Linked DNA regions of Homo sapiens. The protein of the gene in region 4 purifies or fractionates together with the protein of the main gene of each other region. This does not show direct contact. Each region holds a gene or a part of one and is shown on either strand. Other genes may lie near its edges.

Evidence for each region.
Region 1: the proteins of DSTYK (region 4) and LSM12 purify together in Homo sapiens (affinity purification with mass spectrometry; one large-scale study listed by BioGRID and IntAct). This does not show direct contact.
Region 2: the proteins of DSTYK (region 4) and MTPN purify together in Homo sapiens (affinity purification with mass spectrometry; one large-scale study listed by BioGRID and IntAct). This does not show direct contact.
Region 3: the proteins of DSTYK (region 4) and DDT purify together in Homo sapiens (affinity purification with mass spectrometry; one large-scale study listed by BioGRID and IntAct). This does not show direct contact.

What each region holds. Positions count from the first base shown.
Region 1 is NC_000017.11:44,036,142-44,044,109, reverse strand, and holds part of LSM12 (protein LSM12), read left to right. Parts: intron 1-3,853; coding exon 3,854-3,963; intron 3,964-5,925; coding exon of another isoform or gene 5,926-6,021; intron 6,022-6,571; coding exon 6,572-6,698; intron 6,699-7,007; coding exon of another isoform or gene 7,008-7,205; exon of another isoform or gene 7,206-7,248; intron 7,249-7,809; coding exon 7,810-7,902; 3' UTR 7,903-7,968. UniProt on the Homo sapiens protein: Nicotinic acid adenine dinucleotide phosphate (NAADP) binding protein. Confers NAADP sensitivity to the two pore channel complex (TPCs) by acting as TPC accessory protein necessary for NAADP-evoked Ca(2+) release.
Region 2 is NC_000007.14:135,948,078-135,956,045, forward strand, and holds part of MTPN (myotrophin), read right to left. Parts: intron 3,554-7,968; coding exon 3,440-3,553; intron 2,606-3,439; coding exon 2,522-2,605; intron 1-2,521. UniProt on the Homo sapiens protein: Promotes dimerization of NF-kappa-B subunits and regulates NF-kappa-B transcription factor activity. Plays a role in the regulation of the growth of actin filaments.
Region 3 is NC_000022.11:23,969,693-23,978,123, forward strand, and holds DDT (D-dopachrome decarboxylase), read right to left. Parts: upstream 4,750-8,431; 5' UTR 4,723-4,749; coding exon 4,615-4,722; intron 4,252-4,614; coding exon 4,076-4,251; intron 3,652-4,075; coding exon of another isoform or gene 3,435-3,651; exon of another isoform or gene 3,405-3,434; intron 2,865-3,404; exon of another isoform or gene 1,932-2,864; coding exon 1,859-1,931; 3' UTR 1,715-1,858; downstream 1-1,714. UniProt on the Homo sapiens protein: Tautomerization of D-dopachrome with decarboxylation to give 5,6-dihydroxyindole (DHI).
Region 4 is NC_000001.11:205,162,313-205,170,280, forward strand, and holds part of DSTYK (dual serine/threonine and tyrosine protein kinase), read right to left. Parts: intron 7,521-7,968; coding exon 6,851-7,520; intron 1,644-6,850; coding exon 1,411-1,643; intron 695-1,410; coding exon 611-694; intron 1-610. UniProt on the Homo sapiens protein: Acts as a positive regulator of ERK phosphorylation downstream of fibroblast growth factor-receptor activation. Involved in the regulation of both caspase-dependent apoptosis and caspase-independent cell death.

The DNA.
Region 1 (7,968 bases), on a different chromosome or scaffold from region 4:
AATGGGGTGATGTTATGTTTTTAAGCTGCTATGTAGGTGACAACGACATTTTACTCTTTGAACGTTCAGACTATCTAGTCAACACAAGCTTTATAGAAGCAGCTTTCTCTGACCCAGCATTCGGAGATGATTTGGATTTTCAGGAATAAACGTTTTTAAAGGGGATTGAGGTTTCAAAGTGAGATCTTCCAGCCTGCTTATAAGGTAAATGCCCGCCTGTCCACTAGATGCTTCCCAGGAGCTCTGCCACCCTCCAGTTTTTCCTTCTTTCCTTAAAGACTTCAGATTTTTTTTTTTTTTTTTAATAGAGGCAGGGTCCCACTATGTTGCCCAGGCTGGTCTGTAACTACTGGGCTCAAGTGATCTTCCTCCCTCAGCCTCCCAAAATGCTGGGATTACAGGCGTGAGCCACAGCGCTGGCCGACTTCAGATTTTCTTAAGGCATTGTTTGGAAAGCAAGATTCAAGGAAACTCCTCCTTAGGTTGCAGTGAGCTGAGATTGCACCACTGCACCAGCCTGGGCCACAGAGCAAGACTCCATCTCAAAAAAAAAAAAAAAAAGGAAACTCCTCCTTGTTACCGGGGTTTTTTTGGTGCTTGAGTAAGCGTTGCTTGTTGCTGCTTAAAATACATCATCAGCAGCTCTTTCCATAGAAACTACAAGGCTTTCTTGTTACAGTTGGGATTGCCACTGCTTGGAATGCTGTCAGCCTGTGTGTTTATTTGTCTGTAAAGTTATAGCCTGGTAGGGCCAGAATGGCAGCCAGTCTTGAAAGATTATATATATATTGCTGCTGTATTTGTCTCTCTCCATGTCCTAGAGATCCTGTGAAAAAGGAGCTCTGGCTTCAGATCACTGCAGGGTTTTGCCATTCTTCCCTCTCTTACCCGGGGAGGCTGAAATGACAGCGTGAGCTGGCCTTCTGTGCTCACGCCTGCTCCTCCTTCCTAAGACAGTCTTTGAAACTTGCAAGGACAAGAATACCCATGGCAATTGAAGGCCTCCTTTTTTTTCATAGTCAAACCTAAGCCTTGAGAAAGTGCTTAATTTTATAAACAAAGAATTAGACACTTGGTTTACTTCCTCTGCTATAAAACTATGCTTGGAGCCAGGCGTGGTGGCTCACGCCTGTAATACCAGCACTTTGGGAGGCTGAGGTGGGTGGATCACCTGAGCTCAGGAGTTCAAGACCGGCCTGGCCAACATGGTGAAATCCTGTCTCTACTAAAAATACAAAAAAATGGCCAGGTGTGGTAGCTCACGCCTGTAATCCTAGCACTTTGGGAGGCCCAGGTGGGTGGATCACGAGGTCAGGAGATCGAGACCATCCTGGCTAACACAGTGAAACCCCATCTCTACTAAAAAACTACAAAAAAATTAGCTGGGCGTGGTGGCAGGCGCCTGTAGTCCCAGCTACTCGGGAGGCTGAGGCAGGAGAATGACGTGAACCTGGGAGGTGGAGCTTGCAGTGAGCAGAGCTTGCGCCACTGCACTCCAGCCTGGGCGACAGAGCGAGACTCCGTCTCAAAAAAAAAAAAAAAATTAGCTGGGGGTGGTGGCGGGCACCTGTAATCCCAGCTACTCTGGAGGCTGAGACAGGAGAATCGCTTGAACCCAGGAGGCGGAGGTTGCAGTGAGCTGAGATCGTGCCATTGTACTCCAGCCTGGGCAACAAGAGTGAAACTCAATCCCAAGAAAAAAAGCTATGCTTAGTTTATGGTTTGATGGATCACTGTAAAAGCAGAATATAAATGTTTGAAGATTCCAAGCATTAAGGTACTTTTGGAATATGCTGTAGGTATGGCTCCCCCATTTTTTTTTTGAGACGGAGTCTTGCTCTGTCGCCCAGGCTGGAGTGTAGTGGTACAATCTCGGCTCACTGCAGTCTCTGCCTCCCGTGTTCAAGCGATTCTCCTGTCTCAGCCTCCTGAGTAGGCGGGATTACAGGTGCACACCACCACACCCATCTAATTTTTGTATTTTTAGTAGAGACGGGGTTTCACCATGTTGGCCAGGTTGGTCTCAAACTCCTGACCTCAGGTGATCCGCCTGCCTCGGCCTCACAAAGTACTGGGATTATAGGCGTGAGCCACTGGGCCCAGCCAGTGCCTCTTTTTATTTAAGGAACTGATGTTTGGGGACAAATTGTGTGTTCTCGCGCGTGTTTGCACATGTGCTGCAGCATTGTTAGACTCAGCTGTTCATGTTCATGGGTCTGAAGAGTCTCCAGATTATTTGTTGGACTTTTAAGATGCATTGTTTGCCTTTAATTTGTTTTAACTACCTTGTCTAGCACATTTGTTTTGTCTTACACTCAAACAAATTTGTACCTCTGGAATCTCTAGCAACCAGTAGTGTGGGGTAGGGATCAGAAATGTGCTGGAGAGGTGATAGGGATTGACAGGGTAGAAGTTACGAGATTGTAGTAGACTACCAGATTTTACTAGATTTTCTTTTGATCAGTTTGTGGATGGTTCCACCAGAGGGCAGTGAAGGAACAGACATGACGTAGAATTCAGACTCTTCGTTTTTCTCAAAAGCAGGACAGGGTTGCCTTTAGCTAAAGTTAAAGGTGGACAGCGTTTATGGTTAGATTTACTTGAGTCCTGGCTCCCTATGTGAGCACAGATAATGTTCTGTAAGAGTTTTTAGAGTCTCAGATTGTGGTCTGTGAAGGTGTGGTATGTATTAATTTTTAAACTGGAGGCTCTAGCACAACAGCTGATAAATCTTAATTTTCGCCTTGAATGGAAATTCTGTGTGTGTGTGTGTGTTTGTGTGTGTGTGTGTGTGTGTGTGTGTGTGTGTGTGTGTGTGTTTGTTTTTTTTTTTTTTAAAGAGACAGAGTCTCACTTCTTTGCCCAGGCTGGAGTACAGTAGCATGATCTCGGCACACTGCAACATCTGCCTGCTGTGTTCAAGTGATTCTGCTGCCTCAGCCTTCTGAGTAGCTGGGATTACAGGCACGCACCACCATGCCCGGCTAATTTTTGTAATTTTAGTAGAGACGGGGTTTCACCATGTTGGCCAGGCTGGTCTCGAACTCCCTACCTCAGTGATGCACCCAGTTAGAAGTGTGTGTGTGTGTATGTGTATGTATTTTTTTTTGTTTGGTTTTGTTTTGTTTTGAGACGGAGTCTTGCTCTGTCACCCAGGCTAGAGTGCAGTGGCGCGATCTCAGCTCCCTGCAGCCTTCTCCTGGGTTCAAGCAATTCTCTGCCTCAGCCTCCCAAGTAGCTGGGATTACAGGAGCCCGCCACCACGCCTGGCTAATTTTTTTTTTTTTTTTGTATTTTTAGTAGAAACAGGGTTTTAACCATCTTGGCCAGGCTGGTCTTGACCTCCTGACCTCGTGATCCACCTGCCTCGGCCTCCCAAAGTGCTGGGATTACAGGCATGAGCCACCTCCCCTGGCCGGAAATGTATATATTTTTAAATCTCTGACCATCATTTGCCATCACATAGTCCCCCAGCCACACTCTATAATGTTAAAAGTGCTTTATTTTCTTCCTAGTGCTTATCACTGTCTGAAATCACCTTGATTTCAGTTACTTGTTTATAGTCTGTCTCCCCCACCCACTTCAGGCTATATTTAGCCTAGCATAGTGAATGTCTGGCACATGGTAGGTATGCAGTAAGTATTAGAAGGAAGGAAGGAACGTTTTCTTGGAATACCAGTAACTGTTCAGGTATGTCGTGGATTTTTAAAATTTGTTTCACTTTTCATTTCTGAGAAAACAGAATCTGTCCAAACAAGTCTTTCCTGGCCTCCTTTCTTCAGCTTAGGTCCTGACTGTTGGCAAGAATGAAGATGAATCCTATTCTGAGTCTCTTTCCTCTCTTCCACCCTAGCTTGCCAGCAAAGCACGGACAGAGAAGGAGGAGAAGCTGAGCCAGGCCTATGCAATCAGTGCTGGTGTCTCTCTAGAGGGCCAGCAGCTCTTCCAGACCATTCACAAGACGTGAGTTGGGATCGGAGAGGTCCTTTGTCCTGGGGTAATGCTACCTGGTTGTGCTGTCTGGTGGCAGGCTTTTGGGTGGTTGTCTTCCTAAAAGTCTACTGGGGAAGCTGGGTAGGGTATTGGCAATATGCCAGCATCCAGAGGTGCAGGTGCTGTAGCCCCCTTTCCACACAGAAGAATAGTGTAATCACGGACAAGTTGTCTTCTCTGGTCTTTAGTTGCTTGTCTGTAAAACTTAGTTTTGGATTAGATTATCCCTAAGGATCCCTTCTAGACCTAGTAGTCCATAACTTAGAACTAGTGATTTCTTCTCTTTGATTTTGTTGTTTTGTGCCTTTCTTTAAAAGCTGATGCAGTTTTTATTAAGGGAAAGTTATATCTATATCACTTTTCCCATTGTAGATTGGGATGAACACAGGGAGTTAGAGCAGGCCACCTTCTTACCACCTCTTAAAAGACATTTTGGGGCCGGGCGCGGTGGCTCACGCCTGTAATCCCAGCACTTTGGGAGGCCGAGGCAGGTGGATCATGAGGTCAGGAGATCGAGACCATCCTGGCTAACAAGGTGAAACCCCGTCTCTACTAAAAATACAAAAAATTAGCCGGGCGCGGTGGCGGGCGCCTGTAGTCCCAGCTACTCGGGAGGCTGAGGCAGGAGAATGGCGTGAACCCGGGAGGCGGAGCTTGCAGTGAGCCGAGATTGCGCCACTGCAGTCCGCAGTCCGGCCTGGGCGACAGAGCGAGACTCCGTCTCAAAAAAAAAAAAAAAAAAAAAAAAAAAGACATTTTGTTGGTCGGGCACGGTGGCTCACGCCTGTAATCCCAGCACTTTGGGAGGCCGAGGTGGGCGGTTCACCTGAGGTCGGGAGTTCCAGACCAGCCTGACCAACATGTTGAAACCCCCATCTCTACTAAAAATACAAAATTAGCCAGGCGTGGTGGTGCATACCTGTAATCCCAGCCACTTAGGAGGCTGAGGCAGGAGATTCGCTTGAACCCTGGAGGTGGAGGTTGTGGTGAGCCAAGATTGTGCATTGCATTCCAGCCTGGGCAACAAGAGCAAAACTCCGTCTCAAAAAAAAACATTTTGTCACAGCAGAAGTCATTTGACTCTCCACTAGCTTCCCTAGCTGCTGAAAAACTGGAACATTTGACACCCCTCTCCACCCCGCCTCCCCCCACCCCACACTGCCATCTGTTACTCTGTTTAACCACCCTGGATCTGGTGCACAGATGGCAGCTGGCATCAGAGCTGTTTGAGGCTGTGGTGTGAGTATCTGAACATTTACAGGTATGTGAAGGAACTCCCAGTCGCATCAGCTGCCCTGGGGCTTCCCAAGTGTGAACTGGAATGGGTTTTCCCAGTCTGGCAAGTGCCCAACTGTCTGATAATTGAGAAGAGCCAGTCTGAAGAGCAGCTCCCATTATGGGTGATAAGGGTCAGAGTACAGATCATAGGAAGATGGGGAGTTTGTTCTCTCTCTCTTTTTTTTGAGTCGGAGTCTCACTCTGTCACCAGGCTGGAGTCCAATGGTGCAATCTTGGCTCACTGCAATCTCTGCCTCCCAGGTTCAAGCGATTCTCCTGCTTCACCCTCCTGAGTAACTGGGACTACAGGCGCGCAGTCCCACGCCCAGCTAATTTTTGTATTTTTAGTAGAGACAGTTTCATCATGTTGACCAGGATGGTCTCGATCTCCTGACCTCATGATCCGCCCACTTCGGCCTCCAAAGTGCTGGGATTACAGGCGTGAGCCACTGTGCCTGGCCTTTCTTTTTTTTTTTTTTTTTTGAGACAGGGTCTCACTTTTATTGCCTAGGTTGGGAGTGCAGTGGTGCGATTTTAGCTTACTATAGCCTCAATCTCCCCGGCTCTGGTGATTCTCCCACCTCAGCCCCCGGAGTAACTGGGACTACAGACGCATGCCACCACTACCGGCTAATTTTTTGTATGTATTTTTAGTAGAGACGAGTTTTTGCCCTGTTGCCCAGTCTGGTCTCGAACTCCTGGACTCAAGCAATCTACCCACCTCGGCCTCCCAAAGCGCGGGGATTACAGGTGTGAGCCACCGCGCCCGACCTGTTCTCCTGTCTTTCTAAAGGTGGTATTTCTCCCTAGGCCAATGGTTGACAAACTATGCCAGCAGGCCACATCTGCTCATCTGTTTTACCTATTGTCCATGCTACTTTTGTACAACTATGGCAGAACTCAGTGCTAGTTGTAACAGATGATATGGACTGCAAAGCCTAAAATGTTTGTTACAAGACCCTTAAGAGAAAAAGTTTGCCAGCCTCTGCCCTAGGCTGCTATCTTAATTTGGATTCTTGAGGCCACTATCACATTTTTATGGCTCTCCAGATCTCTGATGCTTCAGAGTAACAATTTCTGGGCTCTCCCAAGAATAAATGTGCATGAGTTTCATTGCTTTTCTAGCCAGTGGCACCCAAGGAATGTTTCTTGGCTACTATATGGGCTGCTGGCATCTAGTTGTTGGCTGAGTGGTGAGCTGGGAACTTGGGATCAGCCTTCTGGAGTTATTTATTCATCAGACAGGAGATGTGGGATGCCCCCAAGAGGTTACATTTCGCCTGCTGTCTTCTCCTTCCAGCATTAAAGACTGTAAATGGCAAGAAAAAAACATCGTAGTCATGGAAGAAGTTGTTATTACACCCCCATATCAAGTGGAAAACTGTAAAGGCAAAGAGGGGAGTGCACTGAGCCATGTACGCAAAATAGTAAGTAAAGGAGCCTTCAGACTTTAGGGGAGAGAGGATGGTTCCTCAGGCCTTCAGTCTTTAGCACCAGACCAGGACATTGTGCTACAGTCTCTGCCTCCTCTAGCAGCAGAGGCCCTGTCTGGCCTCCCTGCCTTCCCTGTACTGTGGGGTTCTGCAGTCCTGTGGGAATGGAACCACTGGGTGGTGTGGAAAGAAGTGAGTGGGTGACCCTATGTCCTTTGCTGGCTTTTTGGAATTAGGAAGACTGTTCCATGGTATTGGGCCTGAGCAGTTTCTCTCATCCCATATTGAGTTTTTCTTTTTTAGAGACAGAGTCTCGCTCTGTCGCCCACGCTGGAGTGCAGTGGCGCGATCTCAGCTCACTGCAACCTCCGCCTCCCGGGTTCAAGCGATTCTCCTGCCTCAGCCTCCCGAGTACCTGGGACTACAGGCGTATGCCACCACACCCGGCTAGAGATGGGGTTTCACCATGTTGGCCAGGCTGGTCTCGAACTCCTGACCTGAAGTGATCTGCCCACCTTGGCCTCCCAAAGTGCTGGGATTGCAGGTATGAGCCACCACGCCTGGCCCCATATTGGGTTTTTCTTAGCTGCAGGTACCATTCTAGAAAGATCTGGTTGGTATAAATCAGTTGCCGTCGGTGTCTCTGACCCTACATATGTCACTGGACTTAGCATTTGTTAAAACAAACTTAAAAAACACTCCTGCTTTTTTTTTTTCCTCTGAGGAACATTGAGAGACCAACATTGTAGATGTAGGAGGTTTGATAAGACTGTAATTCCCCCAGCAGCTTTTCATTTTGTACTTGGGTATAGAAGAGAGGAGGAGTTTAGGTCATGATAATCTCCCCTTATTATATTTTATAGTTTAGTTTGTAGATTCACCTTCTTCTAGCCAATCTTAGTGGAAACTGCAAAAAAATGTGGCTGAAGCAGGAGGCCCTGGCCTACCTTGTGGTTGGGAAGGCCAATAGACAGCAAGGGCAAAGGTGCCTGGACACCAATGGGCTGGACAGCCAGGATGGGGCTGTGGAAACCTGGGTTGGATTGTTTGGGAGACCTTTCTTCCGCATCTCCTTTGTTGACCTGGGTTGCCTGGTCTTTTTCAGGTTGAAAAACATTTTAGAGACGTGGAAAGCCAAAAGATACTGCAACGTTCACAAGCCCAGCAACCACAGAAGGAGGCTGCCCTGTCATCCTGAGTCCGTACACATGGAGGACTCTTCCAGCATCCAGCCAAGGAGGCGCTGGTGGTGGCTTCAGCGGAG
Region 2 (7,968 bases), on a different chromosome or scaffold from region 4:
CTTTTGATAAAAGGCAGAACAAATTAGACTTAATATAAACACTGATTATAACTTTTAAAAGATGCACTGGAACAACTCTATTTTAGCAACTAAGAATTTTTGAAAGAGTATAATCAATTTTCAAAAAAAATCTGCCTAACAAAACTACAGGGTATCCATTAAAGAAGCTTATGCAATAATAAAATCAAAGTAATTAATTTTGAAAAAGCAGAACTAAAATGTACTATGCTGATTTCAAAAAGAAGAAAATCTCTTTCATATAAAACAACAGCTCTACATGGTTACAAACGGTCTGCTACCAACATAGCTATCTCCAAATGTCACTTATTTGGCTAAAAAAAGTCAAGGTTCAGACACAAAAGAACAAAATGGGCATAAGCAAAAGAAAAAACAAACTAGTTAAAAGTAAGACAACTCACAATCAATAATTTAGCAACACAGTACACACACAGAGAACCTTCTGGGATGACATCTTAGGGCCTAATGTACATGCAAATCAAGCCAACTTTTCAGGAACTCATTTAATGTTTTCAACTCTTTAACAACGGAAACTTACAACCACAAGGTCTCAATGACCTGAAGCCTCATGTTTTGGGAATAAGGAGTACAGAACAATGGTTTGGGTTCTCTATAGAATAAAAAATATATCCTGTTTTGTTTTTCCTAGGAGGACAGAGAGGTCTAACACAAAGAAAAATTGTTCTGATCTACAGTTTGAGATATGGTTAGAAGGAAAGAGTACATTTAGGGCAGCTCATTTAGTAAATGACAAGGGACCTAAGCAAAAAATGATCCCATGGAGGTTTTTATTTTCAGAGAACAAAACCCTTGGCTGGGTAAAAAAAAGGTCAGGGAAAAGGCGGGAACGAAGGGTAAGGAGGGAGTCCTCCATTTCTTTTGAGAGCTAGCAGATAGGCTGAAGCCATGGAAATAAAGCCAATGCTGAGGAAGAGACCTGGGACAGGCCAAAAATAAAAATAAAAAAATCAGATCATGGTCATGTGTCTTAAATCCAGGGTCAAGCTGTGCCTCAACTGTACAGTTATATAAATTAATAAGATCTCTTTACTGTTTAAGCCTGTCTGAGCTGGGTTCAGTTACTTGCAAGACAGAGTCCTAACTAATACAATATTGAAATTATATAAATCTTTCATAAACAGCAAATCTGTTTTTGATACAGTAAGCAAAAATATTTCCCAGGGATGAAATTATCTAGCAGTATTCAAAGGTACTTTGTAATCCTTTCGCAGATCTTGGGGAGGGATGAACAGTAAAGAGAAAGACAGTGACTGGAAATCTTTGCGAGCACACCCTATCACAGATGCTGGATCCACTAGCGGCAAAGAGTAATATTTCCATTTATTTTGGCTTTTGGACAAATGCATCATTCTTATCAGTAAGGTATAAAAATTGCTCTTGATATATAACCCAAACCCAAACAACAACAAACATATTTAAAGAAATCCAGTAATTGTGGTTAACATGAAGCTATGGATAGAAAAAACCCTAGCTCTATTTAGAGGACCCAAATTAACTGCTTTTAGAACCATATCTTTACAAAGTTGTCAATAAAGTGTTAAGAGATAAATGTGCTATCTTCTTTCCCAATTTTCTTCGTATCTTACTGAAGCTGACACTACAAAGCATTAAAATCCTCTTCAGCCTTAGTTATAATAAAAGCTACTACTTATTGAGTGCTTACTATGTATCAGGCACTGTGGCAAAATGCTTTATATACATCTACTCATTTCTGTTTTTCTCTTGCTTCTTTTAGTAGGGCTTAAGATCCCAAATGAAATATTATAAACAACACTTTCCAGAGTATGGTCATAAAATGACAAGGCTGGGATTAAATACTAGTGATAATACTGTAACTGGTAATATTTTCTGAAGATTTCTTGCTTTCCAACATCTGTAGGATCCATCTAATACAGCTAGAATGGCGGCAACTAAATGGTTAATTTCTGAGTCTGGATTTTGAACTCCATCTAAGGGCTTATAATAGCAAAGACAAAAAAGGTAGGAAAACTCCAAATTTACCACTATCTCAAGCATATCAAGAAACCAGATAACTTGGAGAGTCCTTACTTAACAGCAAACTACCTCTAACCATTTTGCTCGGTATGTATTCCAGAAAATGAAACATATACATTTCAAACCAGTGCTACTCAAAGCATGGTGTATGAACCTGGTGCCAGTCCACAAAGTGTTACTGTCCAAAATGACATTCTTCTATATCATCAAGTACAATGGTTATTTCAAGCTGGTTTCTGTGTGTGTGTGTGTAAAATATTTTCTTGACAAAGAAGACTGCTGATTTATATTCACCCAAGCTCCTTACCTACCACAAACTGGTAACAGTTTATGGGCCAGCTATTTTGAGTAACACTACACTTCAATTTTGTATATTGCTTCCAGTTTTCTGTCCCTGCTGCCACACAAAATTCAAATAAATTAACAATCAAATACTTGGCTTAAACACAGTAATAGAAAAAGCAATACTATTAGCAATTGACCTCACCTTTGACAGAAGCAATTTCACACAGGAAACATGACCCTCATAGACAGCAGACAGAAGAGGAGTAATATGATGTTTATCTGGAGCCTATGAAATAATAAACAGAGATAACTTTATCTGTTTTTCATTTCTTCCTACTTTCTAGTTTTAACTAGAAAACTCTTTCTAGATTTACCTATTTGCCTTTCTAGAAAATCAATCAATCAATCAATCCACAGAGTCAAGTGTCTAGTCTCTTAAAGCTACCAGAGACCCAAGCCCACGAGCAATGTCTTTCCTTAGGAGTCATAGTAGTAGAGCATAGGGAGCAGGGCTTTGACCTCAGCTCAAATCTTGGCTCTGCCACTTACTATGGTACTATTATTTAGCCTCTCTAAGCCTTGATTCCCCACAACTGTAGAAATGCCAGTGTGGTCCAGTAAGGGAAAACAGGGGTAAAACACAGCCAAAGAGGAGGTAAAAGGGCCGGGTAGCATGGCATCCCCTGAAATACAGAAGCTACAAAAGGCTAAAGTTGGGAGATGACTGCGCTTATCTGACCACTTGCCCATTGACCTTTGTCCAATAATCCATTTTAGATTTAGCCTATGACTGCAGAGTCCTATGCTGTATTACATCATAGCCATTTGTTACCCACAGATAGTGCTAACTCCCCAAGCTTTAGAACTTGAAAAGCAACAGCCACAGGGGAAACATACTAACCTTCAATTTTTGTCAGCTTAAAAAAGTCAGCTTTTTTGGCTTATTTTTAAAAATCCCACCACTGTATATCTAAGTTATAGGCAATTTGGCATAATTTCAGACTGTATTCTTATTTAGAATGAAGTTTCTACAAATAGCTATTTTATAATCTATAGAAAACAATTACCCATAGCATATTAACAGAAAATTTTTTCAAGAATGATCACGTCCTCTACGTACATTAATATCTGCTCCTTTCAGCAGCAGAAATTCCAGGATTTCAAGCTGCCCACAATCTGCTGCATAATGAAGAGGTTTCCTTCCACCTTCTAGTGTCCGGTTGACATCTTCTCCCTGATAAGAAAACCAAATGAAAACAATATTTATATGAATGGAAGACTGAAGAAGTGAAATGAGGCACCTGATACTTTTACTTTCTTAAAGCCGTGAGAGTTTCATGAAACAATTAACATTTCTTGCAAAATAAAATAACCAAAAACTTGAAATGAAATTCTGCACAAGAGTTAACATACAGTATGATGGAAATTCAAGCCACAATTAGTTAAGCTGAAAACAATATACAATAATGATAAATATAACGAAATACATTACTGTCCTCCATTTCTAAGGAGTTCAATCAGCATAGTGTCAATATGTGACCACAGAAGACTAGTGAGTTCAAGCACTGAGATTTTACACAGTTCATATTACATGTATTTTAATTCTTCAAAGAAAGTATTCCCACTTTGATGTAGGCAGCCATCAATATCACAATGTAATTTCAGTATTAGGTATTAAGAATTTATTTCATTTAACATTCAGTAGAGCCCAATTGTGTAGCAGGCACTGTGCTAGACAGTAGGAAGACAGTGGTCAGCAAAATCAGACATGACTCCTGACTGTATGAAGCTTACCGTCTGGGGTTGGGGGGCAGATATTAATAATCACATAATTAAACATATAATTTCAAAATACAAGTGCTACAAAAAATGGAACTCAGGGCTTTCAGAAGAACATGACAATCCTGGTGATGAATGGAGGTATAGTGCCAGAAAAATGAACTTAAGTCCAAAAAAGTCATTTTCATTCACTGAAGATTAACAGAGACTAAAAATGATGACTACCTTCGCTATGGACCAGCTGCAATACATCTGGCACTGTGATACACCCATTATTTCTAATCTTCAAACTACCCCAAGAAGAGAATAACCTCCATCTAATACATGAAAACTCTAAAGCTGAAGAGGTTAAATAACTTTTTACTGTGGTTCAGTTAGTAACAGAGTAGAGATTTAAACCCATTCTCTTTCTGTACCAACATGCTGTTTCTAATTCGCTATTTGCCCCTTCCCTCTTAGGAGAGTTCAGATTTTACTGAGGAGCAAAACATCCTATATTCTCTCAGCCGGGTGTGGTGGCTCACACCTGTAATCCCAGCACTTTGGGAGGCCAAGACTGGTACATCACTTGAGCCTAGGAGTTCAAGACCAGCCTGGGAAACATGGCAAAACCCCATCTCTACTAAAAATATAAAATTAGCCAGGCGTGATGGCATGCTCCTGTGGTCCAGCTACTTGGGAGGTGAGGTGGGAGGATCCCCTGAGCCCAGGAAGTTGAGGCTGCAGTGAGCCATGACCCTGCCACTACACTCCAGCCTGGGTGACAGGAGTGAGACCCTGGCTCAGACAAAGTTTATTTTCTCAACAATTGTATTATTCACTTAGCATAGTTTGGTCAACTCATCAAGCCATACCCTGAATCAAGATGTTCAGAGCCCTATCATTTTACAGCCACTATAAACCATTCTTTCAAACACACATACTCCAAACTCCTCCAAACTCCCCTTCCCCTTTGTCACTTATGCCTGCTCCCTCCTTCCTTCCCATTAATTTAAATACTATAGGTCCTACAAGCCTCAATCAAATTTAAGATTTACTTTGTCTATGAAACTTTCCATGATAATGGCAAGCTCTCTTTCTCGTAAAACTCACAGGAATCAGTTAGTATTTAAATATATGGTACCCTTACAACTTTGTGTATGCCTTCTTTCCCAACAGAATGCAAATTCCTTGGGAGTAGAAATTATATGTTTTCTTCTTTATATTTTCCTACAGTATGATGTGGGAGTTAAGAACAGGAGCTCCATCACCATTAGATCTTGGGCAAGTTACTTACTTTCTATGTGCAGAGATGACAGTACCTGCAGCTCATGGAGTTGTGGGGGTTAAACTACATGATCCATGTAAGGCACTTAAATATCACACTAGCTAATATTAACAGAAATACGGTTAGCTATTATCTATAAGTATTATCTATGTATGTAATAGGTATACTCAAATATGAATTTACTTATTTTTAAGCATTCTGAGAGAAGGGTGATATCAACTGTCTACCATAGCAACCAATGGTGTCAGTGAAGCATTAAGGGAACTAAATTATAGAGTGTTTCCAAATTCCAGCCCACATGTGTATTTCAAATATATATTTTTTTGGAGGATCAAGAGTTTCATCAGAAAGCATTTTCCTACCTGAAATATTAGATGATAAAACAATCTAAGTTAAGACTACTTCAATAATTCAAAGCAATAATTTCTAAATGATTGTTTACTTAAGTTAATATGTGATACATGCATTACAACAGGGCCTCCTGTAAATCAGAAGGATATAGAAGGAATGTATAATGTATATATGTAATATAATGTATATATATAATGTCTATATAAGGATGTATAATGTGCCTAAAATCACTGGAGACCAGGTTAGCACTCCAACTCTACCACTTAGTTGTGGGACCAGAGACCAGGTACTTTCTAAATTTTGGTTTCCTTATCCGTAAAATGGGAATAGAAATGTCTACACTTCACAGGGTTTCAGTGTTTCACTGGAAGAGATAACCTATGCAGTGTTTAGCATAGTGCCTGACACATTGTTTAACAAATGTTTAATGAAGGCTATTATATTTAATAAAGGTTCACTATTATTTTTGTGGATTCCTGGTACTGGCTTATACTAGACAAAAGATTATTCAAAATAGGATTAAGGCAGGTTTCTGCATAATGGTTGAAATATGAATAATTAAAGATATTATTTATTGTAACATGCTTTATATTCAAAATCAAATTTAAATAGTAAGGGCGAACTAGCATACCACCTTAGTCTTTATTCACAACTACAAAAATGTTGTTGAGGCAAAGAATGCTTAACAATTCAGATAAAATTAGTTTGCCCCCCATTATTAACATTTCCTTTCTGTTAATATTAGCTAGACAGGATTAACTGGACGAGTCTTTAGAGTGAGACAAAGCAAATAAATAAGTGCAATAAATCATCAATAAGATCTTTGTCAAAGATACTTCTGTGAACCAAAAATGTTACATCCTTCAGGGCTGGGCACGGTGGCTCACGCCTGTAATCCTAGCACTTTGGGAGGCCGAGGCGGGAGGATCACGAGGTCAGGAGATCGAGACCATCCTTGCTAACACGGTGAAACCCCGTCTCAACTAAAAAACACAACAAATTAGCTGGGCGTGGTGGTGGGCACCTGTAGTCCCAGCTACTTGGGAGGCTGAGGCAGGACAATGGCATGAACCTGGGAGGCAGAGCTTGCAGTAAGCCGAGATTGCGCCACTGCACTCCAGCCTGGGTGACAGAGCGAGACTCCATCTCAAAAAATAAAAAATGTTATATCCTCCCTTGCACTCTTAATACCAGTGCAAAATGCCTATGAAATGGAGTTGTGAGTTTAAATTTTCTCCTTTATTCCTTCAGACATTTACATTACAATTCTTATTTTAGCAGACAAAAAGACGATGAGACTGAAAAGGCTTTGTGTGACTGACAGAAAAAAATCCTTGTCAGCAGGGCCTTAGCAAAGCAGTACTTATAGAGAAATTTATAGCACTAAATGCCTGTACTGGAAAAATAGAAAGATTTCAAATGAATAATCTTTGTATTTCCATCATAAGAAACTAGAAAAAAAATTAAATCCAAAATAAGCAAGAGAAAAGAATAAAGATCAGGGTAAAAATCAAAGAAACAGAAAACAGAAAAATGAGAGGAATCACAAGCTGATTCTTCAAGATCAATACAACTGATAAGCCTCTAGCAAACGTCATCAGGAAAAGAGCGAAGATACAAAGTGCCAATATTGGACAACAGATTACCTCCCCACAAAGAAACCTTCAGACTCCAGATGGCACCACTGTGAATTCTACCAGACATTTAAGGGAAGAAATAATACCAATTCTACCCACTCTTCCCGAAAATGGAAGCGATGGGATGTTATCTCAACTCATTCTATGAGTTCAGCATTACTTTGATTCCAAAACAAGACAAAGATGTTATAAGAAAATACTGTATGCCAATATTCCTCATGACAAGTGATGGAAAAATTTTACACAAAATTTTAGCAAACGTAATCCAACACTATGTAAAAAGGATAATATACCATGACCAGTGGGGTTTATCCCAGGAATAAGGTTGATTTAATATTCGAAAAGTCAGTGAATATAATTTACCATTTTAACACAGAGAAAGCCATATGATTGACCATCTCAATGGATTATAAAAAAAAAAAAACCCAATATGCATTTGTCATCAGAATTTAGCAAACTAGGATAAGAAGGAAACTTCCTTGGCCTACAAAAAACCTACATTTAAGATCATACTTAATTGGTGAAAGACTGAATGCTTTCCTCCTAAGATCAGGAATAAGACAAGGATGTCTGTTCTTACCACTTCAATGTTGCACTAGCGGTTCTAATCAGTAC
Region 3 (8,431 bases), on a different chromosome or scaffold from region 4:
CCTGTGATCCAAACTACATGGGAGGCTGAGGCAGAAGGTTTGTTTAGGCCCAGGAGGTCGAGGCTGCAATAATCTGAGTTTCCACCACTGCACTCACTCCATGCTGGCTGCCTTTGGATTGTTCCTAATTGGATGGTTTTGCTTTCAACAGACACTCCAATAAAGTACACGAAATAAAGAATAAAGTTAAACAGTCAGTCCCAGTGCTGTGTAGGTGGCAGTAAGTCTGGGAGAGCGACCTCGGCTGAACTAACTGTGGTGTGCATCATTGTTAAGCAGGGCCAGCAGGATCCTCATGTCACCTGGCAGGAGGAGGGACAGGGAAGGGTCCCTAGAAGTGACCTTGAGTTGCACTTAGTGCTCTTGGCAGAGGGAAGGGCTTGGGCTAGTGCTGGAGGCATGAAGATGGGGTGTGTTCAGGGCTCTCCAGCAGTCCAGGCATGGGAAGGGGACGCTGAGGGCCAAAGGCGGAGGTGACACTGGGAAGGGAACTAGCAAGGTGAGGACTGGCTTTTGGCCATGTGACTGAATTGCCTGTGTGGTGCGTGTGTATGTGTGCGAATGTCAGTGAACTGTGTGTGAGTGAATTGTGTGTTTATGTGTGGGTGTATATGTGTGTGATGTGAGTGAACTGTGTACATGGGTGTATACGTGAATTTTAGTGAATTGTGTGTAAATGTGAGCAGTGTGAATTTGAGTATGTGGGTGGATAAGTGAATTGTGATTTTGTTGGTGTGAATTGTGTGCCTGTGTGTGACGGGGAGTATGTGTGTGTGTGAGTGAACTGTGTGATGACTATGAATGTCAGTGAATGCTGTGATTGTGTGTGTGTGTGTACGTGTGTGGGGATTTGGTCTATATGTGTGAATTTGAGTTGTGTGACTTTGTTGGATGTGAGTGAATTATGTGACTGGGTGTATATGTGTGTGTACATGAGTTAACTGTGTGTAAATGGTATGATTGTATATGTGTGTGAATGTGATGAATCGTGACTAGATGCGGGTGGATGTGTGTATGTGCATGGTGTGTCCATGAGTGTGTAAGTGTGCAGGTGGCACAGTTGCAACAGGAGAGAAGACACAGGAAGCCTTACCTGCCATTCATCCCCCCAGCTGTCCTCCCAGCCTGGGGACCCCTGGGCTGGAAAGGTTATGAAAAGTGGTGCTACTGCCAGGAAGGGGTGATGGGGCAGCTGGGAGGACGGTTTGAGTCTTGCCAAAGGGAGGGAGTCGAAGCTTGCAACCCTGGGGAGGAGGAGGGGCAGACTGGGGACCCTGCTTCTGGAAAACCAGCGACCAACCCCCAAAGGGACACAGGCAACCCCTGCCTCCACTCTACAGTGGGGAAAAGGGGAGAGTGGCGTGGCAGGCTGCCCAGCCAGTCATGGAGGGAGTAGACTTCAGGAGGAGTACAGAGGTCTGGTCCCATTTTGGGGCTGAGGACAGGAGCCTCAGGTCAGCAGTCTGCAGGAAGGCCCCAGCTGGACCAGCTGCTCACACCTTCCCACAGGCCTGCAGATGGGTGTGGAGAGCAGAGCCTCCAGGCTGAGTCTCCCAGCCCCAGATCTGAGCAGTCTAAATCATCCCCCTCCAGGTTCCCTACGGTCTTATCCACCAGCCCTGCTGCCCATGGTGGCCCCAGATGCCCAGGAGAGATAATAGAAGGTAAGAAGTCATGTTTGAATGAGGAAGCTCTCTTCATTTATTTCATATGAGGATGAAGAAGAGGATTATGTGATCACAGGAATGTTGCATGCGGGATAATCCAAAGCTGGTTATCTCCAGGCCCTCACTCTGCCAAGAGATCTCTCTGGAAGAAGCAGCCAGTTCACAGATGCCCTGGATCCCTCCGTGCCCAATCATAAAAAAGTCATGACCGTCCCTATCTTGCCAATCTGCCAGGACTCCAAGGGGAAAAAGCGGATAAGTATCCTTCAGGAGACAGAGAAAAAGATATCATCAGCTCCTTGGCTAATACCACATCTTGCAAGACCCCTGCCAGGTACTCCCACTGTGGGTACTCAGGACAGCCTGCCTCAGTCCACCAGGCATTTTGCAAACCTGCTCATCCCAATAATGATTTTCCCCAACCCCCAGCAGGGCAGTGGGACACTCAGGTGTGGGAGGTAGCCGCACATCATGACCCAGCTAGGACAGACACACAATACAGTAGCCTCGGTGTGTGTGCCGTACACTCTATCATCTCCATCAGTTTGTGTACTGAGGGGTACCCTGCCTCCTAATTGCAGGCTCCCTAAGGGCACAGTACCTCAGCCACCTGTTTTCTCAAAGGCTGAGCACAGGGTGACCCCCCACCCCACCAACCCCGCCACTAATGTCTGGGCCATAAGTGAACATGCCCCTCTCAGAGGTAACAGCAAGTTTCCAGTGAGGAAAACCAGAACTTGGGACAGCCTGGTTGGGGCGGGCGGGAGTATGAACAGCCTGTCTTCTCATCATAAAATTGGCATAATGGAGATTATCTACCTCATGGGGATAGCATGTCTTGTCTGAGCAAAGGGAGAGTGGATAGGGATTGTAAGGATCAAATGGGATCATGAGTGTAAAGTACCTGTAGAGGACCTAGCACATGGTAAGTGTATAACACTTGTTGTTAGAGTAACAGTTTTCCCTGAGTATCCGTGGGAGATTTGTTCTAGAATCCCCAGAGGAAACCAGAATCTACATTTGCTCAAGTCCCTTACATAAAATGGTGTAATATTTGCATGTAACCTACACACATCCTCTCATATACTTTAAATAATCTCTGGGTTACTTATAATACCTAATATAATGTACGTACTATGTAAATAGTTGTATTGTTTAGGGAATAATGACAAGGAATAAAGTCTATACGTATTTTCAGTATAGATGCAATTATCAATTTTTTTTCCTCTAATATTTCAATCCATGGTTGTTTGAATCAACAGATGCGTAACCCAGTGATACAGGGGGCTGACTGTATTATTCCTCTGTAGCTTGAGGGAGGACCCAGCAGGATCAGCCATTCCTCATCGACCTTCATGGACTAACAAAGGCTCCATTTCAGAAGGTCTTTTTTTGTGAGCCAAGGTCTCACTGTCACACAGGATGGAGTGCAATGCGCAATCATAGCTCACTGCAGCCTCAACCTCCTGGGCTGAAACCATCCTCCCACTTCAGCCTGCCAACTAAGTGAGACTACATGTGCACACCACCATGTCCGGTTAATTTTTAAAACTGTTTTGGGGGATGGCATCTCACTATGTTACCCAGACTGGTCTACAACTCCTGGGTCAAATGAACCTCCCGCCTTGGTCTCCCAAAGTGCTGGGATTACAGGCATGAGCCACCGTGCCTGGACAGTGTCCTTTCAAGCTTCTCATGCCCTTACTTCCTCCTAGACATGGATGTGGCTCAAGAATATCTTTTACCCAAGAGGAAACTTTAACTCGGTCACAGAACGCCAGGTTTGGGTTGCAGACGCTTCTTGTGGGGGAGGGAGGTCTTTTCCCCTGTATTCACAGAAGAGGAGGTTGCCAACTGGAGATGGTTCATTTCCAAGTTTGTCTGGGGTCCCCCAGCTATGCAGGACCCAGAAAGCAGATGTCTAGACATCCAGGCCAATGGTCTTTCACTACTCTGTGAGTCTCCCGTGAACTTCACCTGGAACCTGGCTGGGACACAGGTCCAAAATACGTAACTTCAGAACATACCCAGAATTCCTTCTGACCAGCCTGGAAAAGTTCTAGAAAATCACACTTCAGCCACGTGTACCTACCCTGTCAGGTGCCAAGGCAGGTACAGCACACAGACAATCCCACATGACCCTTGCACTGCCCCGGGGGTGTTAAAAGAGAGCCTTCCCGGTTCACAGACTTACACACTGAGGAGCAGAGCCAGAAATTCATTCAATCCTGCTCGCACTTTGAAGATGGTCCTAACAGCAGGAACCTAAGGGGTCAGGGGGCCCCAAAGCTCCAGACCCTGATGTGTCCTTACTGGGCAGGGCAAGAAATGGGTTTTTCCCCCTGAGGCAGGATCAGTGGCTCCAGTCTGCGGCAGTCCCACATGGATCCCCTACTACCCCTACGCACCGGTCCTGGCCCAGGGCTAGCTCCTTGGTGAGAAACTCAAAGAAGTGGGCGCTGTGGCTGCGGTTGTCCTCGGCGGTGCCCACTACGCCGATGGAGGAGATGGACAGCTGCGCGCAGGGCTCGGTGGACCCGCTCAGCGCCATGGCCAGGCCCGGCCGTACCGTCACGTTCACGCGCTGAGGGGGACATGAAAAGTTTTGCCCGAAGTTGGAGCCGGCCGGGCTACCTCTGGGGACGGGACCCGAGCGCGCGAAAGCCGAAACGCGCAGTGTTCGCGGGGCAGGGATCCCGATACGGGCCGCGGTCCCTGAAGGTCACGCCCGGGTCATGACTGGGGAGGGCGACAAGGGAAAGACGTGCGGAGGGGGAGCCGCGGGATCGTGGAGCACGGAAAGTCAGAGCTTGGCGTGAGGAAAGGAGTGGGGAGTGGTCCCTGGGGAAAAGATTCGGGGTCACTGTCGGGGAGGCGGAGCAGGGACAGGGCCGGACCCCTGGCCCACCAACCTCCCCTCGCCCCGTGCTGCCCGGCCCACGCTTACGTCCGCAGGTTTGCCCAGGATGGAGGCAGCGGCGGCGCAGAGTCGTTTCTCCAGCCCCGCGGGCACTCGGTTGGCGGGCAAATTCGTGTCCAGCTCCAGGAACGGCATGGCGGGCAGAGGAACGGAAACAGCTCTGGCGGAAGAAAAGCTGGGGGTACCCAAGGCTCGCGGACCAGGGAGGAGGGGCGAGGCGCCACAGCAACCTGGCTTCTCATTGGCTGGACAGAGACTCGGCGCTCCCCGATTGGCTGCCTAGGGTACCTCCCGCTTCTGCAAACAAAAGTCACGTGTGCCGGCTGATTTCCGGAAGTCCCATCGTCTCCGCCCTACGTGTAGCCCCACCCACTACAGGTCTTTAACCCGGTAGTGGACCCACCCTGTCTCCCCCGACCCTCCTGCCTGGCGCCAGGTGGGTTTCCCTCTCAAGCTTCCGCGCTGTGGTCGCCCGGTTCCTAGCCCTATTAGAGGTCTGAACACCACACCCCCGACACACAAGGACACACACACACCTATAGGGGTCTTCCCCAGGCTCGACCCTAATAACCAATACAACGGGAGCTTAAAGTTTTTTTGAATGATTTGCCACCATTTCGAAGTCAGGCAATTTCATGTTCAGTATGGAAATCTGCGCTTGGGCAGTCAGGAGATGTGGTTACTCGCGGGGGCGCGGGTAGGGCTAGGCTCACGACAATACCTGTCCCTGCCTGGTCCCCATTGACATCTGCCTGTGTAGCCTCTTGTGCCGGTGGTGAGCCACTGTCCACCAGGGGGTGGCAAAATATGTTCTTTAAAACATGGAAAGGCCGGGCACGGTAGCTCACGCCTGTAATCCCAGCACTTTGCGAGGTCCAGGCGGGCGGATCACCTGAGGTCAGGAGTTTGAGACCAGCCTGGCCAACATGACGAAACCCCGTCTCTACTAAAGATACAAAAATTAGCCGGGCGTGGTGGCAGACGTTGTAATCCCAGCTGCTCGGGAGGCTGAGGCAGGAGAATCGCTTGAACCGGGGAGGTGGAGGTTGCAGTGAGCCGAGATCGCGCCATTGCACTCCAGCCTGGGTGACAGAGCGAGACTCCATCTCGAAAAAACATCAGAAAACATGGAACTCTGTTGGCGTGGCTTAAACATGAGTGTGGTCAGTGTGGCAAAATCACTTGAATTGTACATTACAAATATGACTGAAGTTGTGGTCGAGCAATGTGGCTCACACCTGTAATCTCAGCACTTTGGGAGGCTAAGAAGGGAGGATTGCTTGAGCCCAGGAGTTAAAGATCAGGCTAGGCAACATAGCAAGATTCTCTTCTTTATTTTCTACAAAAAAAAAAAAAAAAAGAAGAAATCTGGGTGCTGTGGTGTGTGCCTGTAGTCCTAGCTACCTGGGCGGCTGAGGCAGGAGGATTGCTTGAGCGCAGGAGATCTAGGCTGCAGGGAGCTATGACTGTGCCACTGCACTCCACCCTAGATGACAGAGTGAGACCCAGGCTCCCCCCTCCCCCACAAAAAAGAAAGAAAAAATTTGCAAGTTTATATGTACAATTTCAACTACGTGTATAAAATTCTCTATAAGTGTGCATACTTAAAGGAGCCTCCACTGAAAGGCCGACAGAGTCTCTGTCTGTCATGATCTTGTCCTATTAGCAGTTTGTTTATTAGATGACTCAGATATCAGAAGGTCTGAGACACACGACAGGTAAATATGACAGTCCTAAGGGGAGAGGGCAGGGACAGGTGGCAAGTCTGGGACCAGGTGTGGGGCATGGACAAGCCAGTGGTCCGGGAGTGGGGTGTAGAGAAGACTGTGGTCAAGGTTATGAGGAGGCATGGGAGAGGGCCAGGAAATAACCAGGGACTTCCCTTCCTGCAAGGAGGTTCATGAACCAGCCCTGCACCCCACTTGTGGAACACAACATCGCCCCACAGTGAGGAGAGAGACCGAGGAGACCAAGGCTGATCCTGATTCAGACATCTTTCCACCAGGTCACCCCTCATCGATGATACATGCTCAGTCCGGGGGTATCCCCCGCAAGGAAACACTGGGGCTGAGGAGCCCAGAGAGGTCGCCTGACCTGGACTGGGGCTGGGGAGGTCAGGGAAGTCTCCCTGGAGAAGAGACAGGGTGCCAAATGCCAAAAGACCAGGAAGGGCACCAGGCGAAGATGAGGAGGGAACAGCATGAGCGGAGGCCAAGAGGCCAAGGTGGGAGCCCAGAGAGGGGTTAGGAGTGTGCAGGCAGAAGGGGCCACCTGGAGGAGTGGGAGCAAGGCCTTGAATGCAAAGTTCAATGACTTGTACTTTAGCTTCTGGGCAGTGAGGAACCATACAAAGTTCCACACAGAAGGTCAGGGTCAAGTAAGCGTTTGCCCAAGCTCTTTTCAGAGGTCACATGGAAGCTAGAATGGAATGGGGTAGGAGACAAAAGGAATGCAGGCATGATATCTGGAGGAACTGTGGACCAGAGCCTTTGCAGATATGTCTTCTCTTCAACCAAGGAGACGGACAGCTCCATGTCTTTATTCTACCAACACAGCATCCCCTCAGTGGCTCAGCAAGTGTGGGACACGCACTCACAGCAAGAAAAGCTGCATTAAGGTCTTCAGATTCTCTTTAACAGCAGGTTCTACTGGAGGCAGGTCCTTGGCCTTCAGGACAGCTGGGAGGGCCTCCTGGAAGAAGTCCTCCCGCACTGCAGCCTCCACGTGTTGGGCACCATGCTGCCACCGTGGGTCTGCTTTCAAAGACTCAGCAGCCAGCACTGATGGGCTAGGGGAAGACAGAGTCAGCGGAGGGGCTGGGCATAGCCAAGTGTAAGGCAGCATGACCTGCTTTAGGGGTTCTCTGATTGGATTTTCCCTCCTCCACCATGTGTGTGATGGGCTAGGATGTCCCCCTCCCTGGGGACACTTGGAAGCCTCTTAATATAGCTGCGGTGAGGGGTTTGTAAAGCCCCATTTTATAGATGAGGACACTGAGGCTCAGAAGGAGAAGTGACTCACACAGGGTCCCACAGCCAGAAAAGACAACATGAGCTGGGATGTCAGCTCCCTTCCCGGATACACCACTGCCCAGCGGGCCACCGCACCCCATGGCACTCTCATGCCTCAGCTCCGTGATTGCCACCAAGCCAGCCACAGAGATACGGGGCCCAGTAAGGAAGGCCTGGTCCCGCAGGAACTTGTCCTCGAGCAGCTGCAGGCATCCGTCCAGCTCAGCCAAAGTGGCCGCCAACATCTCGGGTGGCACTGACTCGCCCAGGAACACAGGGATTATTATCTGGTGGGCCGACAGGCAGAGAGAGGGGTCAGGGTCTGCCCAAAGCCCATCCTGGTTCCCACCATCATCCTATCATCACCAGTCCTTGGGATTTCTGCTCACCTCTGCTCACTTCTTTCCACTCATAGCCACCAGTAGCTCTCATCTCCTACTCAAACAGGGACAGCCTCCCCCTTCTCCCTGGGTCCTCACACAAGGCAACCAGTGGGATCCTTCTGTAATCTCAATCTGCCCGTACCCTCTCTTGCATAAAGCCTTCCATGGCTCCCCACTGCCCTCATGAGAAAGGCCTCAACACAAAGCCAGCCTTCTCCAGTGCGGTAGCCATCCCCTCCCCACTTTTCACCTCACCTCCTACTACCCCCCACTTATCAAACGGGAATGTGTGTATGAATCCTCCCTGGAATCTGGTTACAGTTTATGCTCCCAATCAGTAAGGTCAGAGTGGGGCCTGAGCCTCTGCATTTCCAACAAGCTCCCTGGTGATGCTGATACTCCCAGTCCATTGACCACACTTTGGATAGGAAGAGTCTACACTTGCTCTAC
Region 4 (7,968 bases):
CAGGCTCATAAGATGGGAGCCATACGAAGTCCAAAGTTCCTTTCCAATTCCATCTACCACAAAATCAGGTCCTAGCCCAGAGAAAAGCATCAAAGAACACCAGGCCTAGTCTACATGCTCACAAACCCTCAATATATTACATTCAGTGCCAGGGAGTGCCTGATAATCTTTCTGAAGTCAGTAAATAACTCTACATAAGAGCCAGATCAAATTCCAGAACAGAAACCACATTCACAGCCTCTGGCAACAACAAAGCCTAGTTCTGAGAAAAGATTTAGGCTGGGAAAAAGAAATATGAAGAAGCTAGTGTGGTAGAGTCTTATGGCTCCATGAAATATCATTTATCTTTTTTTTCTATTTTTCCATTGTCCACAAAGAGCACCCAACATAAAAATCATTTAAACCCAAAACTTCTGAGAGTTCAAGGGAACAATGTTAATAATTATTTAAGAATAGGCATAAACCAGAATTCTCCCAGGCAGGCAAACCAGAACAAATGGTCACCCTGCCTTAACAGAAGATCCTAGATATCTGTTTCCTACTGGGGTCACTATGATTCATTTGAGCCAACTAGGGGCTTTGAAATCTTTCTCTAAGTAATAATCCCTACCTGTTTGATTTGCTCCCATAGCATCCTTGTAACTGACGACCCTGAGTGAAACGTGACTTCAACATGATAGGCAGCATTTAAGATCTGAAAGAGACAACGCCAAAGAAAACATGTCCTCAGTAGTGTGGCTATTTTAAAAATGCAATAAATGATACTTATTTCAAGAACACAGTCCAGACTCAGGGTTTCCAAACTTACCCCTCAATATATATGCAGAGTCAACTTAAGCTGATTATTTATTTTGTGACTATCTAGCCCCTTCTACCTCATCTTTATATTCATCAACTTATTTTTTTATTTTTTTTTTTATTTTTTAGACAGAGTTTCACTCTTGTCCCCCAGGCTGAAGTGCAATGGCGTGATCTTGGCTCACCGAAACCTCTGCCTCCCAGGTTCAAGCGATTCTCCTGCCTCAGCCTCCCAAGTAGCTGGGATTACAGGCATGCACCACCACGCCCAGCTAATTTTGTATTTTTAGTAGAGATGGGATTTCTCCATGTTGGTCAGGCTGGTCTCCAACTCCCAACCTCAGGTTATCCGCCCACCTCAGCCTCCCAAAGTGCTGGGATTACAGGCGTGAGCCACTGTGCCTGGCCTATATTCATCAACTTAACTGCAGTTTTACAGCTCACCAACATCTCCCACAGGCAGTGGTCATGTGACAGGAAAACAAAATAAAATTCAAACAAGATTCGCAAGAAGCTGAAAGGGAAATTCTTGCCTAATTTGAAGTGTGGACTTGTGCAGATTTTTCATGTGCTATCTATGACACGATGTCTTAAAAATCATTCTTTGTCTACCTGTTTGAGATAATTACTGGTGATGTGAACTGAGACATCCTGAGACTTCTCCAGGCTCTGCAGACATCGTTCCAGGGTTCCGACGAAGCTTTCCCTCAGGTAATCCACTGAGCTGATCAGCTTATTAGCCACTGCCTGATTAAGTCGGGAGATGATGAGTTCCTGGATCTGTCGGATGCAGCATTTGATCTCTCTGGTGCCTACTGGTTCTCCATTCTCAGGGACAATGACGTCTATGGAGGCAGAGAAATAAGCTGAATAGTTGTGAGGAAGAAGGGGCAGACACACTAAATAAAGTCATCTCCCAAATCAGAACCATGGAACTACCGTGATGATGATGGCTGCAAAAAGACATGATTCGTTGATGATGTCTAACTCTCACAATGATCAGGGGTCACGTAACCCTCAACTACTAAAGGCAGCTAAGATCCTGAGAAGAAGCAATTAAGTCCAGGTGCAGTGATTCACGCCTGTAATTCCAAAACTTTGGGAGGCTGAGGCAGGAGGATTGCTTGAGCCCAGGAGTTCAAGATGAGCTTGGGTAACAGTGAGACCTCATCTCTACAAAAAGTAAAAAGATGAGGCAGGCGGGAGGATGGCTTGAACCTAGGAAGTAGAGGCTACAATGAGCTGTGATTGTGCCACTGCACTCCTGCCTGGGTGATGGGAGTGAGACCCCGTCTCAAAAAAAAAAAATAAATAAGAAGCAATAAGTCTAGAATGAGACTGTTGATTTTGTTAGCTTTTTTTTTTTTTTGAGACGGAGTCTCGCTGTGTCGCCCAGGCTGGAGTGGAGTGATGCAATCTCGGCTCACTGCAAGCTCCGCCTCCCGAGTTCAAGCCATTCTCCTGCCTCAGCCTCCCGAGTAGCTGCGACTACAGGCACCCGCCACCACGCCTGGCTGATTTTTTGTATTTTTAGTAGAGACGGGGTTTCCCCATGTTGGCCAGGATGGTCTCGATCTCCTGACCTCGTGATCTGCCCACCTCGGCCTCCCAAAGTGCTGGGATTACAGGTGTGAGCCACCGTGCCCGGCAATTTTGTTAGCTTTTATGTCACATTTATAGGAGGGGAGGAACAACATTTATGAAGTGCAAACTATTTGAAAGGCACTAAAATAAGGATTTTACACATGTAATCTAATTTCATCTTCACAATAACTTTGTTACATGGGTATTATAGATCAGGAAACAGCCTCAAAGAGAGAACAAAGTAGACATGGGAAGGGAATAGTACAGTTAGGAAGTAATACAGCCAGCTTTTGAACCCAGTGCTCATTATTCCAAATCCTATGATCTTTGCAAAATTTCACACTCCCTAGCATATTAATGAGAAAAACCCAAGAGTCAGGAATTGTATTCTATGTTTTGTTTTGTTTTGCTTTTTTTGAGACTGAGTTTAGCTCTATCGCCTAGGCTGGAGTGCAGTGGCACGATCTCGGCTCACTGCAACCTCCGCCTTCTGGGTTCAAGTGATCTTGTGCCTCAGCCTCCCAAGTACCTAGGATTACAGGCACCCACCACCACGCCAGACTAATTTTTGTATTTAGTAGAGATGGGGTTTCACCATGTTGGCCAGGCTGGTCTTGAACTCCTGACCTCAGGTGATCCGCTCACCTTGGCCTCCCAAAGTGCTGAGATTACAGGCATGAGCCATTGCCGCCGGCCAGGAATTTTATTCTAATCAATTACTAGATAAATAAAAAGTAAAACTCAATTGTCCCCACCATGCCACACTATCTCTTAGGATTAGAACATCTATTAATGTTGTAAATCAGAGGACAGAAGAACTTGAGAGAAGTCAAACTACTTGCAAAAAGATGTGCTCCTGAAAAGGCACTCTCATGTCTACTGGTGGAAACTTAAATGGGTGCCACTTCTTCAGAGGAAATTTGGCAATATCTATTAAAATGTTCAACCAACCAAGAAAAATCTACATACCCTTTGATCTAACTATTTTGCTTCTAGGAATTCTTTTTCTTGAGATATACCCTTACAAGTCCCAAGGTGTATATGTACAATGATGATTAATGCAGTACATTTTGTATTAGCGAAAGAGAAAATAAAAAATAAACAAATAAGCCTGGCCAACATGGTGAAACCCTGTCTCTACTAAATACAGGTATGATGGTGTGATGGTGCACACCTTTAGACCCAGGTGTGATGGTGCACACCTTTAGACCCAGCTACTAGGGAGGCTGAGGTGGGAGGATTCCTTGAACCCAGGAGGCGGAGGTTGTAGTGAGACTAGACCAGGCCTCTGCACTCCAGCCTGGGCGACAGAACAAGATCCTGTCTCAAAAAAAAATAAATAAATAAAAATAAAAAACAAAAACAAACAGCTTAAATGTCCACCAATGAGAGAATAGTTCAATAAATTCAGGCATATCCATTAGAAGAAGACAAATTTGTATGAATATTTATGGAATGCCCTCTAAGATACATATTAAATGAAAAAGACAAGTGCAGAAGAACATATGGAGAAGAACTGGGTGGCTGGGGGATGGTGTCTTTATAACTCTGAGTTAAGTACTATACATATAGGTTTTATCTTAAAAATAAATTTTATAAAGTGTGAATATCATGATACCTAGCACATATGCATTGTCTTTATTTAAAAACAGACAGTAATAGTAATCTGGCTCAACGCTGGGCACGATGGCTCATACCTGTAATCCTAGCACTTTGTGGGGGCTGAAGCAGGAGGATCGCTACAAGCCTGGGCAACACAGCAAGACCTCGTCTTTACAAAAAAAAAAAAAAATCTGGCTCCATAGAATATGTGCTAGCTTGCTTCTAAATCTTCTTATTGTTTCAAGGATACTCAGAAAGCACTTAGAACAAGGTAAGAACAATCGGATACTTTACTGTCTGCCCAACCTAGCTGTCCTGACCTCCATTCTGTGTAATATGATGCCGGCAGTGATGCTCTGGTGTCTTTAATCAAATATTGAGAAGACTTCCTAAGATTTCCACTGCAAGTAACACTTCTCAACAACTCCTCTCGCAGTGGGGAATTAACCAAAGAGGTATCTCTGTTCATCTTTAGAATGACTATAAGAAATCAGGCAACCTATGTTTGCTAAAGTCAACCATACTTCCTTTGTATTTATAAGTGTAACTTAAACTAGATACCATCATTCACACACTCATTGATTCTCCAAAGACGTACTGTATACAAGAGTCTGTGTTATTTGCTGCAAGGAATATGATGATGAATAAGACCCAGATCCTACCCTCTTTCAACTCTAGGATTTTAGGAAGTAGTCCGCAGTACATAAATAACTATAATAAAAGATAGAAAGTGAAATATGCCAGAAATAAGTTACAGATGGAATGCTATGGGATTTCAAATGACTGCAATTGTTATTAGCTAAGAAAATTAAAGCAGGGCTAGGTGTGATGGCTCATGCCTATAATCCCAGCACTTTTTAGGAGGCCGAGGTGGGAGGATTGCTTGAGACCAGGAGTTCAAGACCAGCTTGGCCAACATGGTGAAACCCCTGTCTCTAAAAAAAAATACAAAAAGTTAGCTGGTGTGGTGGCATGTGCCTGTAGTCCCAGGTGTGCAGGGGGCTGAGGCAGGAGGATTGCTTGAGCCCAGGAGATTGGGGCTGCAGTGAGCCATGACTGCACTACTGCACTCCAGTCTGGATGGCAGAGCAAGAACCTGTCCCAAAAATAAAAAAAGAAGGAGAAAATTAAAGAAGACTTCATGAAAAATGGCATTTGGGAGACAGGCCCTGATGGGTAGGTAGGATTTGGAAGTTCACAGACAAATCAAAGACATTCCAGGTTTAAGGCAGGGTGTTAGCAAAGAAAAAGTAAAGGGAGCGTATGGAGGACAGAAAGAAGTTAAGACCAACTGACATAGAAAATACAGGAAAGTGCATAGTGGGGAAATAAGACTGGAAAAGTTGGTAAGGGCTAGGCTTTGGGAGGTCTTTAATACTAGGTGTAGGAGTTAAACTTAGTCTGTAGAAGTAGGGAGCCAGTAAAGGTGAACTGAAGAAAGAAGTCAGGGAGATCAGTTAGATAACAATAGTTCAGTTAGACTTAAGACAGAATAGAAAAGCATAGATAGGTATCGAATACGTAAGAAGATTAATCGAGGCCAGGTGTGGTGGCTCACGCCACCCAGCACTTCGGGAGGCCGAGGCGGGTAGATTACGAGGTCAAGAACATCCTGGCCAACATGATGAAACCCCGTCTCTACTAAAATACAAAAAAAAATTTAGCCGGGAACGGTGGCACACGCCTGTAATCCCAGTTACTCGGGAGGCTGAGGCAGGGGAATTGCTTGAACCCAGGAGGCGGAGGTTGCAGTGAGTCAAGATCACGCCACTGCACTCCAGCCTGGGCGACAGAGCGAGACTTAATCTCAAAAAAAAGAAAGATTAATCAGTACTTGGCAACTGATTAGCCAAGGGAAGACAATTCAAGACCATGCTGAGGTTTTGAAGGTGGGTACCAGGAAGAAGGTGGCATCAGTAACTGGAAACAGATTAAGAAGCAGTAAAGGATGGAAATTAAGAATATGGGCTCAGGAATCAGACTGTCTGGATTCAAATCCTGCCTCTAATATTTACTAGCTGTGTGACCCTGGGCAAATTACTTACTCTTTCTAAGCCTTAGTCCCTCATCTAGAAAAAGGAAATAAGCAGAATCTACCTAGGGAGGTTATTTTTTAAAAATACTGATGCTGGGTCCCATGTCAGAAATCGTGAGTAAGTCTGCAGTCATCTTTAGTGGTCTTGAGCATGTGTATTTTCAGAAAGCCTCCCAAGGGATTAGGATACTCACAACTGAGACTCTAAAGGGTAACTTGCAAACCATGTCATTTTAATCTTGCATGGAGGTTTATACAGAAGTCAGTATACAAAATCAGCAGCATCTCAGACACCCAAAGACCTGACCAATCACTTTCACCCAATTTTGTTAGTAGCCATTTGTGAAGAATAGGACTGTCAAAAGGCTAAAAACACAACTTTGGGAAATCCTCCTGATGTGGGCTTCAGAAGCAGCCTGAAAGGAAATTAGACCATGAGACAAAAAGAACCAATAAAGAGGCATGAGCCATACTGCAGGAGCAAAGGTTAAAGCACAATTTACTAACATTCTCCAAGCAGCTCTTCTCCAGCTCCATTAGGGGTTGAGGGGGTACAGGCAGAAAGTGGAGATTACAGAGCTATTAGGATGAATTTACCAAAAGTTGAGCTAATGTTCTTGGGAAGGAATGAGGGTGGAATCTTCCACAATGATCTTTGAGAGCAAGAGAGGCCACCTTGGCTAAATAGTGGGCTCCTGCTGGTAACAGTGGGGTGGATGAAGTTACCCTGAGATTCCTTTAACCTTAGGAATTAACGTTCTTAATTTCCGGCTAGAAAATGGTTAGAGACTCCTCCCGTGCCAGCACCCCAACAAGCTCTCTGGGACCTACCTTTAAACTCCATGTTAGTAGCATCATCCAGAAGTTCCTCCTTCATGGTATTAAGTGTCTCAACAATCATATCCTTCATTTCCTCCTGCTTTCGGTTGGCAATATTCATCAATGATTCATACAACTCATTCTCCTTTTTTCGAGTATATTCCAGACGTTTGGGAGTGATCTGCAGGTCCCGCTGCATGTCAAATGCCTGGTTAATAAAGATGTCAAGGCAGTGGCAGTGCACCAGGTTCAGGGCCTTGGCTGCATCCACCAGGCGAGTCTGTAACACCTGGTGAGAAAATGTGCTCAAGTGTCTCAGCTTTTCACTCTGTTCCACCAACATGCTCTGAGCTTTAGTATCCTGGCCAGGAGCCCCACAGTTCCAGTGACTGCTGCTCAGATAGCCCAGGTCAATTAGCTGGCGATAAAGCGGTGATCTTTCGCTCTCCATTCTCCTGGTTGAGGAGTCTATTATCTCCGAGCCCAGTTTCGGCACTTTGAAAAAGAATACAGGAAAGGAGAAATACTTTCGGATTTCCTGAAGCTCTTGCTCATCCCTCTCAGAGAGTTCATCTTTGTGGAGTGCATAGGTTATCACAGGCAAGAAATCATTCACCAAGTCACCCAGAACATCCACTGTGGGCCGGAGGCCTTGGCATGGTGCTACCACAACGTCCACTTCCTGGAAGGGGAAGGGGGTCATATATCAGCGCCTCAGGGTCAGAACCAATCCCTGTCTCCCCAAAGTCCCACACTGAGACCAAAATCCTGATCTACAATGGAACAATTGGACTTCGGTACCCCAGCCATTGATCCACCTCCTTCCTCGGTTACCAACACTCCCTGGTGCAGCCTATGAAGGCAGGCACTCATCTAGAGAGAGTGAAAAAACAAAGAAGTAGAAAGGATGGCAACCCCTTTAGCCATCAGATTAAAAAAAAATTTTGGTCTCTGCCTTCCTTTATTGCTTAGACATTCCCACTGATTCCCTCTGATGAAGAATTAAGACAAATAATGGAAGAAAAAGGAATTGTAATGGAAATTATCAGACTGGGAGTGAGTCGACCTGGGGCACTCCTCCCCCTCTTGCTCTCCTCTGACACCTCCATCCCTGCCATTCTGACCTGGCT